2 separate regions of the Homo sapiens genome follow, and region 1 is linked to region 2. The links come from fine-mapping of genetic effects on gene expression. Tissue or cell type: whole blood. Region 2 holds a variant in brackets; the other region holds the start of a gene. All regions are shown on one strand. Distances are between the middles of the regions.

The links. PIP is the estimated chance that this variant, and not a neighbour inherited with it, causes the effect.
Region 1: SLC31A2 starts here. The variant in region 2 is fine-mapped to the expression of SLC31A2 in whole blood (INTERVAL, PIP above 0.99).

What each region holds. Positions count from the first base shown.
Region 1 is chr9:113,145,804-113,156,513 of GRCh38, reverse strand. It overlaps SLC31A2 (solute carrier family 31 member 2), which reads right to left and starts at 5,507. Exons shown (of 4, transcript NM_001860.3): 1 at 5,434-5,507. The coding sequence starts at 5,439. RefSeq lists an enhancer at 291-585.
Region 2 is chr9:113,170,364-113,181,073 of GRCh38, reverse strand. FKBP15 (FKBP prolyl isomerase family member 15) reads left to right here. Exons shown (of 28, transcript NM_015258.2): 20 at 2,273-2,444; 21 at 4,401-4,537; 22 at 6,491-6,646; 23 at 7,469-7,621; 24 at 9,368-9,493; 25 at 10,445-10,552. Among named protein-coding and RNA genes, the nearest start is that of SLC31A2, 25 kb to the right of the region's middle. The variant A/G (reference allele first, on the strand shown) is at 4,604.

The DNA of each region.
Region 1 (10,710 bases), 25 kb after region 2:
TCAGAGTTTTTAGTCCCATGGCTTTCAGCTTTCTTCACCAGGGAACACCAGCCAATTAAAATCTTTCTTCTAATTCCATTATGTAAAACACGGGGCTCAGGGTGGAGAGGGGAGAGAAATATGAGCTCTGATGAAACTCAGTTTGAAAAATGCTGATCTGGCCCAACTTGAGTCCCTCTCCACCCCCTCTCATTTCCAGGTGAGGAAAATGAGTATGAAGAGGGAAAAGGATTTGCCGGACCTCCTTATAAGCGGGTTACTCTCAGTTTCTGTTCAAGGGAGGAAGATATGGAGTGAGACTGTGGGTACTTGTGAAGGCTGTGGGGGCCATCAGTTCTTACAGAAAAGGAGTTCCGGTGGAGGCAAACGTCAGTGTGGGGGTGGAAAGGTAGGCAGATTTGATTAGCTGCCATTTTGTCAGGAAGCTGTGCCATGTGGGTGTCCTGTAGCCTCCTGGAAACCAGAGCCACAAACTTCTGCTTGCAGACGACAGCCCTAAACCACAGGCCTTGCATGTTCTAGTCGTCTCCAATCCTCCCCCTCTCAACAGTTAGGACCAAAGGAGATAGTAAAGAATAGTAGTCTGAGTCCAGGATTTGGAACAAAACACATTTGTTAACCAGGGCCTCTCTCTGGCCTCAGTTTCCTCCGAGGGGAGCTGGGGGAAAACTCTGCAAAGCCATCCACACAAAGTGACACACAGTAAGGGCTCAATAACCCCAGTGCCTTTTTTTCCCATACATGTCAAAGCTGGAGGGGTGTTTCTCAGAAGTGTTCCATGGGAGAAGTACAGGATGCTAGGAGGTACTGGGAAAAATGGATTCTATGGTCAAGGGAGTTTGAGAGAGACTGGAATTAGACAAAATAAGGTTTAATAGCTTTCTGCACTGCCAGAAGCCTGTACCCAGAACTCTCTCCTCCCCTTTTTCTCTTGCTGAGTGCCCTGTGGGAAAGAATCTCATAGACTATCCTCTAGGAAGTGCTAATTTAGAGCAACCCTCTTTTTTCATGCTGGGAGGGAAATGACACTGATTATTCTGTGCCAGGCACTCTTCTAAAAATGTTATATGTCTTAACTCACTCAATTTCAAGAGGGGAATTATTATTCTTAGCTCCATTTCATAGATGAGACTACTAAGGCAGACAGAGTTTAAGTAACTTGCCAAGTTGCTAGCTAGAATTTTGCCTGGGTGGGCTGGTTTCAGATTCTGTGCTCCTAACTGCTCTCAATGCAGCTTCTCAGGGCAGCACTGGAAGTCCAAGGGGCAGCTGTGACATGCCCAGGGTCACACTGTGAGTTGGTGGCAGCATCAGGACTGGATCCTGGGTCTTCTTACCAGGCCCTCATTTGGCAAGAGGAAAACAGATGCTACAACACAGAGAACAGCCCACTTTCTTGTGCAATACTAGACAGAGATGAGGGCTGTGCTGTCGTTCGGTTGTTTTAACATTTCAGGAAGATATGCAAACAGCAGAAGAAACTGATATGGCCACTTTGGAACAAAATATGGGAAGAAATTGGGGAGAGGAAGGAATGTATGAGAAAAAGCCTCTGTGCAATTAGGATAGTCATGCTTAGCCCCCGAAGGATGTTCAGCCAATAGCTGGCCCATATTTCCTGAGAAAGATGAAGAGTGCACCTTAAATAAAGGAAACAAACAAGGACCAGTCTGGGGATGGGACAGTAAGACCAGAGCCCAGGGACAACAGCGGACAACAGGATGAAAAGGCAAAGAGGATAGGGTGGGAGGGAGGACACTGGAGCGGATCACAGGTGTGGATGACGATGCTGTTATAGCCGGATCCACAGAGGCAGAGTCAGTCCCGGGTGAATCACTGGGAAACCACAGGCCAATCATGAGCTCCACACTGGCAAGCGGCTTAGTGTAGAGGGACAGCAGCAGCTGCTTAGACTCCAGGGCCTTATTAAAAGTACAGATTCCTGGGCCTCCTCAGGCCCCTAAATCAGAGTCCAGGGTCAGAGCCACAGGAGACAGGGAAGACATAGATTTTAACCAGCCCCCTTCAGGAGATTCTGAGGCTCAGTTCACTTTGTTGCAGTTTGAACAGAGGCAGCAAGGCTAGTGGTTAGGGGCACGGTCTCTAAAGCTGCACTGCCTGGATCTCCCTCCCAGCTCTGCCAGGAACCAGCTGCGTGGCCTTGAGCTGCTGACACGCAGAAAGCCCCCTGTGGACCCAGTCTCCTCGTCTGTAAGATGAGGACAGGACTCTAGGAACCCTTTCCCTTGGTTTGGCCTCACTTTCACAGGCTCCCATCTTGAACTCTATCTACTCTTCCTGAAACCTTGTAAAAGAAAAAAGTGCTAGCCTGGGCAACATGGCAAAACCCTGTCTCTACAAAAAATACAAAAATTAGTTGGGTGTGGTGGCATGTGCCTGTAGTCCCAGCTACTTGGGAGGTGCTGAGGTGGGAGGATCACTTGAGCCCGGGAGGTGGAGGTTGCAGTGAGCCAAGATCATGCCACTGCACTCCAGCCTGAGTAATAGAGTAAGACTCTGTCTCAAAAACAACAACAATAACAGTGAGTGTGCCTCTGTTTCCGGGTTGGATGGGGCACCACATCTATGCATCTCTCAGATTTGGACGCTGCAGCCTGGGGTTTGGTAGAGACCTGGGACTAACCTGGCTGTTCTACTCCCTACACTCAGCTAACATGCCTTTCAGTGCCAAAAGGGGTCTGACTTGTGTCACCAACCCCTGCCTGCGCCTACCCAGGGACTGGGCTCACTGGAGACCGTGGAGCTGCAGGACAGAGAAAGAAATGTGAAAGCATCTGATTGGACAGAACAGCCACACAGCTCTGTGTCTTCTGAGGGACTGCATGTGCCTGTACCACGTTCACCTTCCATTTATTATGTGTCACTCCCTGTGACATCTCCGCAGGTGCCTACTATTATTAACCTCTTTAACAAGGAAGGTACATAAAAGCCCACTTATCTCCCCATGGTCACTCGGCAATCAGGTACCCAGAGCCAGAGAGTTTTCTGGAAAGCCTGTACTGGTTCTCAAACCTTAGTGTACTGGGTGTTTCTGGGACAGGTGTTTCTAGGACAGGTGTTTGTTGGGGGTCACACTTTGAGAAATCATAGGAACCATGATGGTCTCCTGTCAACCAGTAGGGACTGGTCAAGTAAATTATATGAGAGCTTCAAAATGGAAATCTAGGCGGTCACATCACAACATGATAAAGATCATGTTGAAGACTTTAAAAAATGTTGAAGAGTTTAAAAATAAGAATAGCTTTTACCCCCCACCCCCAATGGCACTAGCTCAATGTAAAAAGCTGACACAGTACCGAAAAGAAAGTAAAAAATCATTTTGAGTCTTACTACTCAGAGATCTCTCCTGTTAGGCTTTCAAAAAAAAAAAAAACATTTTGACACAGCAAAATGTTTACGCAAGATTGATATACAAAACCAAACAGGTACAAACAATACTGTGAAACTCCATTTACACCGGAGATGGCCTCATCCTCAGCAGAAGCCTCTAGCACCATCTCTGCCAGGTAGAGGTAGGGGTGACACCCATCACCCCTTCTCTGAGTCCATTTGGTAAAGCAGATGGTATGAATGGAATGTCCCTAGTGGCTAATTAATCAGTCAGGGAGTTGCCATAACTGGTTTCCTTCTATCATCCTTGGGCCTGGGCCAGTTATCTTAGGAGCCCAAAACAGCCCAGACATGTTTTGCCATAGACCTGAACACCCACAGAACAGTAAGAGTAATTTGAAAGATTTCTTTTTGTTGTGCTAGGTCTGTGCAGACCCTGGCGATACAGAGATGAATGGGACAAGTCTTTGGCCCTTAGGGAGCTACCTGTCTATGAGGGGGGACATTTAAGTGAGCAAATAATTACAACAGGTTGTAGGTCAGAGAAAGGGAGGCACAGTGGAGGCTCCCTGGGGGTGCTGGGGACCAAGCCGCCTGAGAGACACCTGCCCTGGCCAGAGAGCAGTTGGCTAGGATGGTTCTGAAGCCAGAGAAGCAGGAGATAGCTGGGAAGATGAACTGTATGGTTTGTTCAGAGCTGGAAACACCCACGGAGTCCGAAGCCCCAGAGGGACGAAGACTCACCTGTCACTCAACCCTTTCTACTTTTGCCTTTTTGCTAGAGGAAAAGATGGAAGTCAGCACACCCTGACTTGAGAGAAGCGATCTGGGCTACAGTTTTCAATTAAAGGGCTTTGTGGTCAGATAGGCAAGGGGCAGGGCCCCAATCTTGTTTTCCTACTTGGGATGAATCTTGGCCTCTGAAAGTTTAACTGATTTGTGCTTTTTTCAGGGTGGGGCTGTGGTGAAGGAGGGAGCAATCCCTGGAACTTGTTTTCTTCTATATTTCTTCATTTGGGGTTACTTACACTTTGAGAAAAGCTTCCTTATTTGTAAACAAGGGTTGGGAAGGAGATGAAGGTCCCAGTTGCTAGGCTGACTGGCTGGGGAACTTTTGCAAGTGCTTTCCATCTATTTCCCTTTTTAAAGGACGGCTGATCATTTCACTAAATGGCCTACATACACTTCCTATATCTTTTTTTTTTTGTTTTGTTTGTTTGAGGACGTCTTGTTCTGTTGCCCAGGCCGAAGGTCATGGCTCACTGCAGCCTGGAACTTCTGGGCTCAAGCAATCCTCCTCATCCTGCCTCAGCCTCCGAGTAGCTGGGATTACAGGCGCCTGCCACCACTTGTGGCTAATTTTTGTAGAGACGGGGTCTAGCTATGTTGCCCAGGCTGAGCTTCCTGTATCTTAAATTCTATGACATTCTTCATGGGATGAAGAAAATGATATGACTTCTTCAAAGACGAACGAGTCTTGCAAGCTGTCGTTCTCTCCAGCCCAGGTGAACCCTACCAAGAAAAACAGCTTGTCTGAAACGCTGTTTTCTGACTGAAAGTGTAGGGAAGCTGGAAAGTAGCTGGTTCTGTTTTATTCCCCGAAGAATCAGGCTACAAACTTGACAAGAGCAGGGCCGGGGATGTGCGCTCGGTGTGCGCGCGGGGCTGCGGGCTGAAATGCGCCGGGGGTTTCCCTTTCGTGGAAGCCTTCCTGGAATCTCCCAAGGCGCTGCTCTCCGCCCTGGGGCGCCGGCCAGAGGTCCGGGGCCGGGGGCCCCGGACCCAGCTGTCTTCAGCCACCGCGCCCCCACTCTCAAGCCGCGCCACCGCGGGCGCTCGGTAACTGCTCGCCTAGCCGGACTGCCTCCCAGCAGGAGGGACAAATAAAGAGGAAAACCACAGAGCCACCGCAACCTATACCTGCCGCGTCCCCCAACCCTGTTCCAGCTGTTGGCAATGCTGCCAACACACCCTTCACCAGCCCCGGGCCAGCGGCAGCGAGGATTCGGGGTGCCGAGATGGCAGCTCCAGGAGACCCCGCCCCAACCGCCCACCCTCTTCACCGTAGCGCCCGGCCCTTACCGCCATGGTGAGTGCGCAGGGCGGGCGCCAGGGCCGCGTCTGCTCGCTCGGGTCTCCTCGCTCCGAGTCAGTTCAACCGCCGCCGCCGCCGCCGCCGCGATAGCTACCCTGGCCGCACGGATCACGTGGTCCGGGCGAGGCGGCGCGCGGGCGCCTGGGAGTTGTGGTCCCCACACGCGCCCTACTTCGGCGTCCTCGGGCGCGCCCCCTGGCCGAGACCCAGGCGCCTCGCCCCAGGTTCCCAAGGGCTGAGGCTTGGCGTTCCCGGAGTCGCGAGCGAGAGGGACCACCTGCTGCCCTCTGTCTTCGCCCTTCCTGTTTTGCACTTGGCTTGTCTTGGCGATTATGAGAATGTTTATTGCTCATTGTAATAAACTACCCCAAGCGTAACATATATTGAGTTGAAATGGGCAAGTCCGTGCTATGGACGCAATAGCAACACATTTGGAGTAAATTAAGTCAATTATGCCCTAGATTTTTAGTGTAGTCATTACAAGATAATTACATTTTTCTTTTTAGAAAAATATTTTCCAATCTGATAAGCCAAAAGGAATACACCCGTGTAATTTTGTTTTTCTTTGATTACTAGGGTAGTAAACTATTTTTCTTACGGGTACTTCCATTTCTGTGTATTGCCTGTTCATTTCACTGATCCAGTTTTTTGATGGGGAGTTTCTTGTAGGGTGAGGGATTTTTAATGGTTATTGATTCTTAAGCATATTTAGGAACCCTTTGCTAATCAGCCTATGAGTAAAGAGGCTCTTCAGAGAAACCTTACTAAGGACAGTATTAGCAGAGACCTTGAGCCTGGAGCTAACCTCAGTTCACATCCATACGCATCAACTATTGGCTTTGGGACCGTAGGCAAATAGCTTACATCTCTGAACCTCAGTTTTCTGGTCAGTAAAATGAAAATAATAATAAAATCTATGTCATAGGGATTAAATGAAAACATACATGTTAAATTATCATGTAACCTGGCAGTGGGAGCTTGTTCAGTAAATGGTAGAATCCTCAGGGTCACACAGCTTTTTTTCTTTTCTTTGAAACAGAGTCTCGCTCTGTCGCCCAGGCTGTAGTGCAGTGGCGCGATCTTGGCTCACTGCAACCTCCATCTCCCGTGTTCAAGCAATTCTCCTGCCTCAGGCTCCCGAGTAGCTGGGACTACAGGCGCGCACCACCATGCCTGGTTAATTTTTGTATTGTTAGTAGAGACGGGGTTTCACCATATTGGTCAGGCTGGTCTTGAAATCCTGACCTCGTAATCTGCCCGCCTCGGCCTCCCAAAGTGCTGGGATGCTGGGATTACAGACGTGAGCCATCTTGCCCGGCCCACACAGCTTTTAAGATTCTCAGTCTGAAAGCTAATGGAGCAGCTTCAGGGAGAGAACATGGGCCGTGGCACTGTGATGGGGCTGGAGAGGGAGAGCTGCTGCTGTCATGGTTTACTGGGCCATGGGGAAGCACTGGGGAGAAGGGCTAAGGGTATCTCTGAAGCATCTGGGTTCCAAGAGCTGGGGAGGGCTTTGGGTGTAGCTTTTCACCTCTCTGGGCCTTACATGGGAAGCAGGAGTAAGATAATCTGACCTTCACATAAGTGGGCTCTGGTGCACCCCACTCCCCCCACCTGCATTGAAGAATCTGCAACACAGCTTTATTCATTTGACGGTTTTTGTTGGCTTTGTCACAATCTGATGACCTTTACACTTACTTCTAACTTCCTCATGGATGTTTTGGTTACAACACTTAGCCAGGGAGTCCTAAAATTTCTTTCTGTACCACCAGAGGCACTCCTTCCCTGTCCCCCAGGCAGAGAGCTTGTTGCAAACCATGGGATCCTAGATCATAAGATCACAACACAGCCACCCAAGCCTGGGTCCATGGCAAGAGATTCCGGATTCTGTGTTTTGACAGCCCATGACTCCCCTCCTTTCACGGAGCAATAGTCTGTTGTTGTCTTTCCATAGCACACCTAGACCCCCCGAGACAGAATCCCCACTCAGGAAAGATGGCACTGCCTTGAGTGTCACAAAGATTATTTAGAGGCCCTTTAACCTGGGCTCATTTGTAGTCAGTTGATAGAGCGGAAATCCAACCAGTCATTTCTCCTTCTGAGGTTCAGTAGAGGAACTTGAGACTCATGAAAAGACCACATGCACAACATGTAATTCCTGCAGAATGTTGGGTCTTTATGTGTAGGTAAGGCTGTGTGATCCCCAAGGATGCCACTGCCCGTCTCTGGGACCTCGATGTCCCCATCCGTACAGTGAGGGGTGGAATGGATGACCTGCAACTGCCCTCCACGTGCTGATCTGCAGTTATAAGTGAGCCTGAGGGTGGAGTTGAACATGTTATGGCCAGGACCTTTGCATATTTTCCCTGTTAACTCCATCAACTAGCCTTCCATCTTCTCTCCAACGATACCTCTATTATTTTATATTTATGCCATGAGCAGTATTGTGGATCTGATGTGTGTGACACAGGAGGAGCGTGCACATTCAAGGTTGGCCTGTGTGGAGACAGTGGGTGTGCGTGTCGTGGGGGCTAGTGTTTACTGGATCTTGTGCTGGTAAGGCTGGAGGAAGCAGGAGCCAGGCCGCCAACAACCCGGAGGCTGTGTTGAAAGTCAGGAATTTACTCTGGGACAAGAAGGAACTACCAATGGGTTTTTAATATGTATGTTTTCTCACTGCATTTTGTTCTTTTTCTTTTTTCCCAAATGTCACTCTCTTAGTGAGGCCACTCTGACCACCCAATTTATTTATTTATTTTAGAGACAGGGTCTTGCCCTGTCACTCAGGCTGAAGTGCATTATTGCAATGATAGCTCACTGCAGTCTAGACTCCTGGCCTCAAGTGATCCTCCTGCCTTAGCTTAGCCTCCTGAGTAGCTGGGACTACAGCATGCCCAGCTAATTTTTAACAAATTTTTTTGTTTATTTTTGAGACAGAGTCTCGCTCTGTCTCCCAGGCTGGAGTGCAGTGGCATGATCTCGGCTCACTGCAAGCTCCGCCTCCCGGGTTCATGCCGTTCTGCCTCAGCCTCCCGAGTAGCTGGGACTACAGGCACCTGCCACCACGCCTGGCTAGTTTTTTGTATTTTGTTTTGTTTTGTTTTGTTTTTTAGTAGCATGGGGTTTCACCGTGTTAGCCAGGATGGTCTCGATCTCCTGACCTCGTGATCTGCCCGCCTCGGCCTCCCAAAGTGCTGGGATTACAGATATGAGCCACCACGCCTGGCTGCCTCCCTCTTTTAAAGATCCTTATGATTACATCTAGGACCCATCAGATAATCCAGGGTTATGTCCCCATTTCAAGATCCTTAATTTAATCACGTGCGCAAAGTCTCTTTTGCCAGATAACATTCACAGGTTCCGACCATCAGGACCTGGATAATTTTTAGGGCCATTATCCAGCCAATTGTAGGGGTCATCCACATTTATAACTTTCCTGACTGTCTGGAAGGGCTTTGAGCCAAACCAGAGCAAACAGCAGGCCTCTGGACAGCTGAGAAGAAAGCAATGGTTTGTTTTAGCTTTGCAGGGAAGGTAAGTGCTGTGAGGATCCCTTCACTGTTGAAGCCAGGGCTGAGGAGGGAAACACCCCTGAGAATTCACAGGTATAGGCTCTTTACCTCAGTTGTCTTGACAGGTTCCTTTCACAGCTGCTGCAAGGTTGTCTACTCCAGCTGCCCGGGACTCCCAGGCCCTGCATGCCTGCCTCCTGCAGGAAGACTGAGGGGCCCTGGTTTCTCCAACAATGCTGCACTGAGCTTGGAAGGCCAATGCTCAGACTGCCCCACATTTGCAGGGTAAACAGGTTTGAAAAACAGCCATCCATGTCCCATCCAGCTGACGACAGCAAATTTACAAATACTTTTTAAGCAAACTTGCGGCAAAATACACATAACATAGGCCAGACATGTTGGCTCACGCCTGTAATCCCAGCACTTTGGGAGGCTGAGGCAGGCAGATCGCTTGAGGTCAGGAGTTTGAGACCAGCCTGACCAATATAGTGAAACCCCATCTCTACTAAAAATACAGAAATTAGCTGGGCGTAGTAATGGGTGCCTGTAATCCCAGCTACTTGGGAAGTTGAGGCAGAAGAATTGCTTGAACCTGGGAGGCAGAGGCTGCAGTGAGCAGAGATCACATCACTGCATTCCAGCCTGAGCAACAGAGTGAGACTCCATCTCAAAACAAAACAAAACAACAACAACAAACACACACACAACATAAAATTTGCTCTCAACTATTTTAAGTGTACAGTTCAGTATTGTTAATTATATTCATTAATTATACATCATGTAACCCATATCCAAGATGCTTTTCATCTTGTAAAACTGAAATTCTATGAACATTTAACAACTCCCTATTCCCTTCTCCCCCTGCCCCCGACAACCACCATTCTACTTTGTATCTCTATGATTTGAATGTCTCTCGATACCTCTTAAGTGGAATCACATAGTATTTGTCCTTCTGTGACTGACTTATTTCACTTAACATAATGTCCTTAAAGTTTGTCCATAGTGTGGCAGGTATCAGACTTTTCTTCCTTTTTAAGGCTGAATAACATTTCTTTGTAAGTATATATGATATTTTGCTAATTCATTCATCCACTGATGGACACTTGGGTTGCTTTCACCTTTTGGCTATTGTAAATAATGCTGCAGTGAATGTGGATCTATAAATACAATGTTTTAAAAAAGTGAGTGCTTATCTAGAAGCTTGGCCCTGTACTTCTTTTCAGTCTCATGAAAAGAAGATAGGAATGGACCCCCTCTCTCTGTCCCTGTGTAGGCTTCCTGCTGCATTCAGAGTTCTGAACGTATCCCCAAAAATCTCTACCTGATCCCGACTGTACGCCATTTCCTAATCTTACAGAGATTTGGCAAAGCGGGTTTCAGCTTGTGTACAGTAAATTTCCTCTACAGCAGGTTTTCCTCATCTTGAAGAAATAAACGGATTTTCACCCCCAGGAACCCTAAAACCGTTCAAACAGGAGCATCTTGTTGATATCCCCATGTTGATCTACTATGTATATTTTGACTCCCAATGTATCACAAACCAAATGATCATTTGGTGCTGGAGGAAGGACCCAACTGGAAAAATCTTCTGACTTATCTTTTGGAGTAAGGTAAAGTATTCATTTGACCAGATGAAATGGCTGACATTTGACCATTTTTAACCTGAAAAAAAAAAGGCAATTTCATATATAGTTCAACCAATAGCTGAGGCCACTGTAGGTAGACTCCCCACCCACTGTGCCTGAGTCTGAG
Region 2 (10,710 bases):
CACATGTTTTACTTGATCATCTTTATTTCAATGAAACTTTTTGAGCCTTGACTCTCCCCTCTTTTTCTTTTGATCCACTTCTCACTTAACAGTTTTCCTGGTGATCTCTCCTTTTAAAGGGAGATGGGCAAGGTCCTTTTGTCCCTGGAGGCAATTTTCTGCCTTCAGACACAGCTCAGAAAAGTATGGTTAAGGGCTCAATGAATATTTGGTAAATGAAATTATTTTTCACTGTGATATAATAGTACCACAAAAAATCGTGGAATAATGGCTAAAACTGGAAGAGCTATTAGAGGTTGCCTTCTTAGTTTAACCTTTTTATTTTACAGGGACAGACCAAGGATCAGAGAATGAAAGGGTAAAAGACCTGCATAGGACCCCATTTCCATTCAGCTATATTCCTTTTCCTGTGTCAAATTATTATCTCTCTTGAGTACTATTTTCCTGCTTCTACCTTGCATGCTTTTTTTCACTGTTTTTCTGAACTGTTAGTTCTTCCTGTCATTGCTTTCTTTTTCTCACTCTCCATGTCAGCAGTAGAATTTGATCCAGGGTAGGAACCAGGGTGTAGATTTTTTTGTGTTTTCCCTTCTCACTTGATTATACCCTGACCTTAAAAAAAAATTATAAGTACACCTATACACACACACACACACACACACACACACACACATTTTTTTCTGATCATAAAAGTTGCATCTGTTCAGTCTGGAAAATTTAGAAATACAGATAAGCAAACATAAAATATAAATCCTTCCACTCAAAAATAATGATTATTAATATCTTATCCATTCCCTTATTTTCTGTGTACATGTACATTTGGGGGACAGCATTAATTTTTATGCTTCTGAGAGGCCTTTCTAGCTAAGGACCTGAGATAAAAAGAGCTTTTGGGTGATTTTCTACTCTGCTTAACCTTTAGCAAGAGAGTAACCCTGCATTTCATTGGCACGCCTTTGGAATTTGTCCCTTCCAGTGTTTTAGCTGCTGCAAGTCCTTATGAGAGAGGTGCATGTTCTGTTATTAGTGAACTCTGAGCTATGAATAGATGCAAAGCTCTCTGAGCTCTGAGTTAGTTTTGTTTTCATTAGGCCATTTGAAGCAGGACAATGAGTAGATGAAAGCCACTCCTATATCTGGAACTTCTAGATTTCATTGTCATCTGTGTTTAGCAGGTGAAAACCTAAGGCTACTGAATAGCAAAAATAAGTATCTTAAAGCTTAGTCTAAAGGTTACATATACTCTCAGATACTCATTTATAGCCTATTTATTTTTATTTATTTATTTTTTAAAGTGAAAGCAAGTTTATTAAGTGAAGGAATAAAAGAATGATTACCCCACAGGCAGAGCAGTGGCATGTTATTTTTATTTTATATACAATTTTGTTTTCTTGTTTTTTTTTTTTTTCTTTTGAGATGGAGTCTTGCTCTGTTGCCCAGGCAGGAGTGCAGTGGCACGATCTCAGCTCACTGCAACCTCTGCCTCCCAGGTTCAAGTGATTCTCCTGCCTCAGCCTCCGAGTAGCTGGGATGACAGGCGCCCACCACCATGCCTGGCTAATTTTTGTATTTTTAGTAGAGACCGAGTTTCACCATGTTGGTCAGGCTGGTCTCGAACTCCTGACCTCGTGATCTGCCCGCTTCGGCCTCCCAAAGTGGTGGGATTACAGGCGCGAGCCACTGCGCCCGGCCTTTATTTTCTTTTTTTAGGAGAGTCAAAATATCAGATTTTAAATGCAATCTATAAAACCGATAAAGACTTTGGAATAAGGCGAGGAATAAATATATTTAAAACAAGTGGGTACAGTGAACACAGTAAGAAGAGACAAATGATAATAAGGAAATAGACAACTGTGAAAATGTATGTAAGGTATAATAGAGACAGGCATAGTAGCTTGCACCTGTGGTCCCAGCTACTCCAGAGGCTGAGGTGGGAGGATTGCTTGAGCCCAGGAGTCCGAGGCTACAGTGAGCTATGTCGTGTCATTGCACTCTAGCCTGGGTGACTGAGCGAGACCCCATCTCTAAAAAAAAAAAAATTTTAAGTATACTGGTATAGGTATAATAGTATAGGAGTCATAATAGTAGTAGTAATATAATTGTATAGGAGAGATGGTCCACCCCATAATTTGAATTTGGTTTAATGCAGGTTGAAGGCAGCCATAACTCCCTGTTTACTAGTTCAGTCTACATAGAGTTATGTGAGGTTGGTTCATCACCTGCATGGAGAACACCTATGTTTAAAGTGACATCATACTTTGTTATTATTCAGGCCAAGGTGACAGAGGAGTTAGCAGCGGCCACTGCACAGGTCTCTCATCTGCAGCTGAAAATGACTGCTCACCAAAAAAAGGAAACAGAGCTGCAGATGCAGCTGACAGAAAGCCTGAAGGAGACAGATCTTCTCAGGGGCCAGCTCACCAAAGTGCAGGCAAAGCTCTCAGGTATGTGCTAGGTGGGGGATGCTGGGATTGTTGCCATTTAAACTCAAGGAATTAAGCTGTTTTCTTCCTCTCAATTTTTTTGGCATGATGCTCATGAAGTTTTTGAAGGACTACACCAAAAATTAAAGGAGACTAGTATAAAACCTACATGATTGTTTTACAGAAGGAACAGCAAAAGAACTGACTATTCATGTGGAATTGATCAGTGCCACAGTTCCCTTTTGTTTGGGGAGGTGTTGGCTTCAAAATCTTTGGTACTTATGATTGGCTTCAAATGCCTGGAATAGTTGATGTGTTGTTCTAACTCATGACTCAGTGGAAGTTTAAAAAAGAAATGCTTCCTGGTGTGGTTTCTTCTTTCCTAGAAGATGGATTGCAACTCTTCAGCCTCACACTCAAGGCCCATCCTGCTTGGCTTGTCTCCCGTTATATTGTCCAGTTCATCCTGGCCCTGACCATGCCAGCAAGCCTGCTGGCTGCTCTTCAGCTCATCCTGTAGTTCTTGTCTTGCTTCTTATCCATGCTATTCTCTGGACTTGACATGCCCACCATTACCAATATTCGCTTTTAGTCCTCTTCAAAATCTGCCTCTTTCAGAAGCTTTCCTAGTTTTCTCTAGAACATTTGATCTCTTTAAAAAAAAATCCTTTATCTCATAGTGCATTATTATAACCCTTATCACAGTTTGATAAGCATGGTGTTTTGCTCATCTTTGTAAAGTCCTCTCCTCCATATTAGTGTTAGTTCAGTGCCTGGCAAGACATGGTGATTGGATAGAAGATTTGTGAAGACCAGCAGGTTGATTAATCTACCTTGGTTTATGGAAACAAATATGGAAGGCAGACATGGGACTAGTGGGCAGGGGGTAGCTGGAGCAGCAGCAGAGTTGGGTGGAAGCAAAGTTCATTTGCCTAATAGAGAACTAAAAAACAATGATGTCAATTGGTAAGGTGCTACCTTGAAGATACATCCCTTCCCTTTTATTTTTTTAAAAATTTTTTATATTTTGTAGAGACAGGAGTCTTACTATGTTGACCAGGCTGGTTGTGAACTCTTGACCTCAAGCCATCCTTCCGCCCTGTTCTCCCAAAGCGTTGGGATTAACAGGCATTGGCCATTGCTCCCAGCCCATCTCTTCCCTTTTAGAGCATGACTGGGCCCACATGAGGCAAATGTGTTAGACAGTCTTAGATTTGAATGTTGTTCAAATGTCTCATTTCTGCTTTTGTGGTGCCTTATGACAATTACCTCAAGAGTCATAAGAGTCTCAAAAGTTTCCCAAACAAATTTTATTTATTTCAAAGAGCTTTATTTGAGAAGGGATGCTTTGAAAGCAAATTCTTGGTAGAATGTCCCAGCTACCAAGAAAGTTGAGACTATCTTACTCAAGCAGTGAGAAAGAACCTGGACTAATACTAAACAATGATTGGTCCAGTGTGTTAAGATGGTGGCCAAAATGGACTTATGAGAGTTATCTGTTTCAAAGGTCATTTCTGACTGCTGGGAACATGTCCTTTCCATTTCGTATGTGGAGAAGGTGACATGTATACACAGAGATGACTTTCTATGGGATAAATATGGGTTGATGAGGGAGTCAGCTGACGGCTTGACAAATCTTATTGCTGGTCAGTGAGGTGATGTTGAAAGAAGTGAGCAGAGGCTGCTTGTGTGGTAGGATTGGGAAATCAAAGCACGCGGCTTTGAAAGAGCCACTGGGGCCAGGCGCAGGGGCTCACGCCTGTAATCCTAGCACTCTGGGAGGCTGAGGCAGGAGGACTGCTTGAGCCCAGGAGATGGAGGCTATAGTGAGCTATGATCACACCACTGCACTCCAGCCTGAGTGATGGAGCAAGGCTTTGTCTCCAAAAAATAATTTAAAAAAAGAGCTGCTGGGATAACACATAGCCCATTACAGCTTTGGTTCTGTAGCGAAGTCTCTCTGCTCCTGTATCCCAGAGCTCCAAGAAACCTCTGAGCAAGCACAGTCCAAATTCAAAAGTGAAAAGCAGAACCGGAAACAACTGGAACTCAAGGTGACATCCCTGGAGGAGGAACTGACTGACCTTCGAGTTGAGAAGGAGTCCTTGGAAAAGGTAAGCTCTACAACCCAGTTGGCCAGAATTAGCTGTTTAATAAACATTTTTATTTTCCTTTTACAA[A/G]TTACAATAGTATGTGCTTATTGTAACAAATACAAATAATATAGAAAAGTGTAAAATTAAAAAAAAATTTTCCCCGCTCTAATCTCATACATTGAAGGTGACAGTTATAAAGTGTATGATCCTTCCAGATTGTTTTCTGTATGTAGAAAACATACATTCACACTCTCACACACATACATGTATGTATACTGACAACTTTTTTTACAGTAGTGGTATCACGTTTAATGTTTTTTAGGAAAATGTCATGGACTTGTACTACATAAGAAGGAGATCTTTCTCACTCGTAGTTAACTGCTGCATAGTAGCCTACTATGAGGCTGTACCATAATTTGTTTAATGATTTGCCTATCGATGGATATTTATGTTTTTATTTTTTCATTATTTTAAGCACTGCTTCTATGGACATTCTCATATTATATAACTGTTTTTGCAAATTTGTTTGAGCATTCCTACGTGATGGATTGCATGAGTAAGAATCATGGGATCAAAGGGAAGGCTACATATTTGAATTTTTATAAATATTACCAGGTTATCCTCAAAGAATAGTGCTTACACTTTCAGCAGTATGTGAGTGAGCCCATTTGTCACATTCTTCCCCACTCTACATATATCACTTTTTCTAATCTTCATTAGTCTGACAGGTGAAATATGTTATCTTGTTTTAATGTGTATTTTTATTAGTAGTAAAGCTTTCATATATTTAATACCTATTTGTATTTCTTATGTACATTCTCTCTTTAGTGTCCTTTATCCTTTTTCCTATTATTAGTTTGATTTGTAAACCCTTTTAAGGGTATCAATCCTTTGTCAGTCATAGATGTTGTAAATATTTTTCTAGCTTGCTGTCTTTTAACTTTATTTATAGTATCTTTTGTTGGTTAAAATTTTAATATCAGGAAATACTAAGTGAACAAAGTGAGAACATTTCTATCTTTTTGTCTGTTCTGGAATCGTTTAAATATGAAAATAATAAACTGCTCCTGAGGCTTCAGTAAATCTCATTAGGTAAAGCTGTTTTGGCCCAGTGCCTTTTAAGAGGGTAAATCTTGGTCTGCAATTGCATTTTTTTCCAGGATTTTTTCCATTTTATTTATTTATTTTTAACCAATTCCTTCTAACCTCTTGGCTGTTTTCAGTTTGTCATTACTATAGATACTACTACAGTGACCATCCTTGTAACACACTCTTTATGACTATGACTTATTGAATCCTTAATTACAATTTGTGGAATTTCTGGATACGTATGTTTTTAAAGGCTTTTCACAGGATTACTATCCAAAGAGAGTATATCCATTCGTTTTCTTACTATCAGGGTATGAGAATGTCTGATTTCCTGTACCTTTATTAAAGTTAGGATGTTCCCTAGCTCTTTTTTTTTTTTTTTTTTTTTTTTTTTTTTTTTTTTTCTGAGGCGGAGTCTCGCTCTGTCGCCCAGGATGGAGTGCAGTGGCGGGATCTCGGCTCACTGCAAGCTCCGCCTCCCGGGTTCATGCCATTCTCCTGCCTCAGCCTCCCAAGTAGCTGGGACTACAGGCGCCCGCCACTACGCCCGGCTAATTTTTTGTATTTTTTAGTAGAGACGGGGTTTCACCGTTTTAGCCGGGATGGTCTCGATCTCCTGACCTCGTGATCCGCCCGCCTCGGCCTCCCAATTTCCCTAGCTCTTAATAGAGGGGTAGATACAGCTCTTCTTGTTTTCCTTCTCCTGTCACCATTTTCCTCACCCAGTAGCCAAGAATGTTAAATATTTAGGGGAAAATTCAACTAAAAAATGGAGTTTTCAGAAATGGAGTAAGGATTCCACAAGGTAATTAACTGCCACCGCCATCATCCCTCTTTATTCTCTGTTAACAAGCTAGAGCTGATGATGGTTCTCTTGTTCCTAAGAACCTCTCAGAAAGGAAAAAGAAGTCAGCTCAAGAGCGTTCTCAGGCCGAGGAGGAGATAGATGAAATTCGCAAGTCATACCAGGAGGAATTGGACAAACTTCGACAGCTCTTGAAAAAGACTCGAGTGTCCACAGACCAAGCAGCTGCAGAGCAGGTAATGGGAAACTGAAGCACTTTGAAAATAGAGGGAAGGTGTGAAGGACTCAGAGAGAAAAGCTTCTGGTTTCTTCCTTACCCTTTAGGATGACATTTCTCATAGCTGATACTCTCACTTTGGAGAAAGGTAGAAAAAGTAATCCAGATATGTGCAGGAGAGCCAGGAATCAAATGGAGAATCTTCTTTCTTTTTTTAAAGCTTAGTTAATATTTAATTACATAAGTAAAAATGAAAAATAGTTTCCTTACAAAAAAAATTCCAAACATGGTAAGGCCAAAACCATCAACCATTGGACACCATCCTTCAGGCACATTATCATCCTTGAAAAGAAGGGATTGATTTAGGTCATCAGGAAGGGAACCAGGGATAGTGGCAGGACACAGCTGGATCTCTAGTCTGTGCAACAGCAACCTTTCTCATTATAAGCTTAAAATTTATATGCATACATTTGTTTAATTAGAGTGCATTGGTGCCCTCAATTTGACCACCTCTGGGAATTTTGGTGAAAAAAAGTTTCTGAACCTATAAAGTTTAGGGTTCAGACCCTGAAAAGCAGTGATCACATGGCCCTGCCCTCCAGGGACCTATCTAGATAGGCACACTTTTGTCTGCTTGGAGTACCTTTTGGAGTCCTGACAACCAATGACATCTTAAGAAGTGCATTTATTTTAAAAGTAATGAGTCTTTTAAACAGTTTCCCAGTTAAATCTGGGCTGTTAGCTTATTCTTTTGCTTTTTGAAAGATGGGTTTCCCTAGGTGCAATGGAATCTCACTCCCCCACCCCCAAGGATGATATGGTCATTACTTTCTCTTGGCAGCTGTCTTTAGTACAGGCTGAGCTACAGACCCAGTGGGAAGCAAAATGTGAACATTTGTTGGCCTCCGCCAAGGATGAGCACCTGCAGCAGTACCAGGAGGTGTGCGCACAGAGAGATGCCTACCAGCAGAAGCTGGTACAACTTCAGGAAAAGGTACATATTTTTCTTGAGTCAGACAGTTTAGGCAGCCCAGTTAATTTGAGGCAAGCAGGCTGTTTGAGTCCTGTCGATCCTTCTAAGCCTGAAAGTTATTAATATCTAGAAGACAAAACCACACTTGTTTAGCTTGTCAGTTATCTTTCACATACTTATGTGGGGTGATAGGTCAGTGACCTGGAAAAAGAGAAAACAGCACTAGTGTTCCGGAACATGTTTCCCATTATTATTGGATCCTTCATTTATTAAGCAAATATTTATTGAGAGTCAGTTGTATTCCATCCAGTGTGTTAAAGGAAGTGCATACAAGGAACCCTTCCCTCATGTATCTCACAGTCAAGAAAGGGAGACAAAGAAACAAAGATAGGTGTTAAGTGCTATGGGGCCCAGAAGAGGAAGTACCCAGGAGAGCTGGGAAGGTTTCCCAAAGGTGGTGACATTTGAGCAGAGCCAAGAAGGACAAATAGCTTTGGTAAGGCAGCAAAGGAGGCAGAACATCCTGGGCAAAGGCACTGAGATAGGATGGAGGCTGGGGTGTGGTGGGATCATCAGGCCTGAAAAAGAGAGATGGGACATGGCTTAGGGTCATGGTGTGAAAGTCCATATTCGAGGTCAGTTTCTTTCCTTAAAGTGTCCAGTTGAAAACTTTTGGCTCAGAGATCTTGGAGGCAATCTTGCAGATGAATGACAAATGGGTTGCTGTTAATGCTGAATGTTTATGTCTAAATGACTAGTTATTACCTACCCTCCTGCTCTTTTTTCATTATATTTTTTACCTGATTGGGAACAAGGCAAGCAACCTTCTTGGGAAAGAGAAAGTGAAGTTTTGCGTTGAAGTCGAATGATGAGGAGATAGAACTCTCTGAGGCAGAGGGTCGTGGGTGGGGGCTGAGGGAGTGGACACCAGCAGACCTAGGCGAGGTTAAGACTTGATGTTTAGAGATTCTGGAGAGGATGTGGAGAAATAGGAACGCTTTTACACTGTTGGTGGGAGTGTAAATTAGTTCAACCATTGTGGAAGACAGTGTGGCGATTCCTTAAGGATCTAGAACTAGAATTACCATTTGACCCAGCAATCCCATTACTGGTTATATACCTAAAGGATTATAAATCATGCTACTATAAAGACACATGCACATGTATGTTTATTGTGGCACTATTCACAATAGCAAAGACTTGGAACCAACCCAAATGTCCATCAGTGATAGACTGGATTAAGAAAATGTGGCACATATACACCATGGAATACTATGCAGCCATAAAAAAGGATGAGTTCATGTCCTTTGCAGGGACATGGTTGAAGCTGGAAACCATCACTCCCAGCAAACTATCACAAGGACAGAAAACCAAACACTGCATGTTCTCACTCATAGGTGGGAATTGATCAGTGAGAACACTTGGACACAGGGCGGGGAACATCACACACCGGGGCCTGTCGGGGGTTGGGGGACGGGGGGAGGGATAGCATTAGGAGAAATACCTAATGTAAATGATGAGTTGATGGGTGCAGCACACCAACATGGCACATGTATACCTATGCATCAAACCTGCACATTGTGCACATGTGCCCTAGAACTTAAAGTATAATAATAATAAAAAAAAAGAATTTGAAATAAAATTGTCTTTTTATTATATGCAAAAAAAAAAAAAAGAGACTTGATGTTTGGGTGGTTCTCCTCCCCTTGGGTTTTCTGACCTTCACCTGGTTCCTGAGGCCACAGCCACAGTCTGTTTGTTTTGCAGTGTTTAGCCCTCCAGGCCCAAATCACAGCTCTCACCAAGCAAAATGAACAGCACATCAAGGAACTAGAGAAGAACAAGTCCCAGATGTCTGGGGTTGAAGCTGCTGCATCTGACCCCTCAGAGAAGGTGAGCTGGTATTTCAAATGAGAAGCAAGCCATTTATATCAAGCATTCAGAAAGAACATGGCCAGTATGTTGTGTTAATAGCTCTTTTTCTAACTTTAGTGATGTTTTACTTGTCTGATGACTTTAAAATGAACCAGATTTGGTGTTTGTTTGTTTGAGACGGAGTCTCACTTTGTCACCAGGCTAGAGTGCAGTGATGTGATCTTGGCTCACTGCAACCTCCGCCTCCCAGGTTCAAGCGATTCTCCTGCCGCAGCCGCCTGAGTAGCTGGGACTACAGGCACGCGCCACCACACCCAGCTAATTTTTGTATTTTTAGTAGAGACAGGGTTTCACCATGTTGGCCAGGATGGTCTCGGTCTCTTGACCTTGTGATCCGCCTGCCTCAGCCTCCCAAAGTGCTGGGATTACAGGCATGAGCCACCATGCCCGGCCCAGATTTGGTTCTTGAGTTTAAGGAGCTTACAGCCTAGTGGGAAAACAAACAAATACATACTTACATATTAAGTGGCAAACCCAAAAGAACCCTATCTTTCTGAGGTTTTGACAGGTATAGGAAGGGCCTCTAACCACAGAAGAAGAATGGGGCTTGGGGAGTGTGCCCAGCATCCACTGGCCTCTGACCCTTAGAGCCTATGGCAGCTCCTAGTGGTGCTCACAGTGGGAGGGGGACATCAAGAAATGGTCTTTAAGCAGTCTTGGGCACACAGACCACAGCTTGCCTGCCCTTGATAGGTAACTCTCATGACTAGCCCTTCTGTCAAAGTGCTGCTCATTATTTAATATCATCCTCTCCACAGTGACAGCCTTCAGTGTCTCTGCTTATGACCAGCAGTATCCCAGTGTAGAGATCTAAGATGGCTTCATTTTGGCCTTCCATACACCTCTCTGGAATTTAATGCATCCTTTAGTGACTTGATTTTGACAGCATGTGTTTTGATGTTCACACAGGTCAAGAAGATCATGAACCAGGTGTTCCAGTCCTTACGGAGAGAGTTTGAGCTGGAGGAATCTTACAATGGCAGGACCATTCTGGGAACCATCATGAATACGATCAAGGTACAGCCAGCCAGCTGTCATTTGTTTCATCGTATTGGGCATTTTGTTGCTTAAGTACCTTCTAAGGGATCATGAATAAAAAATTGTTCAAAGCTGGCACAGTGGCTTATGCTTGTAATCCCAGCATTTTGGGAGGCCAAGGTGGGAGGACTGCTTGA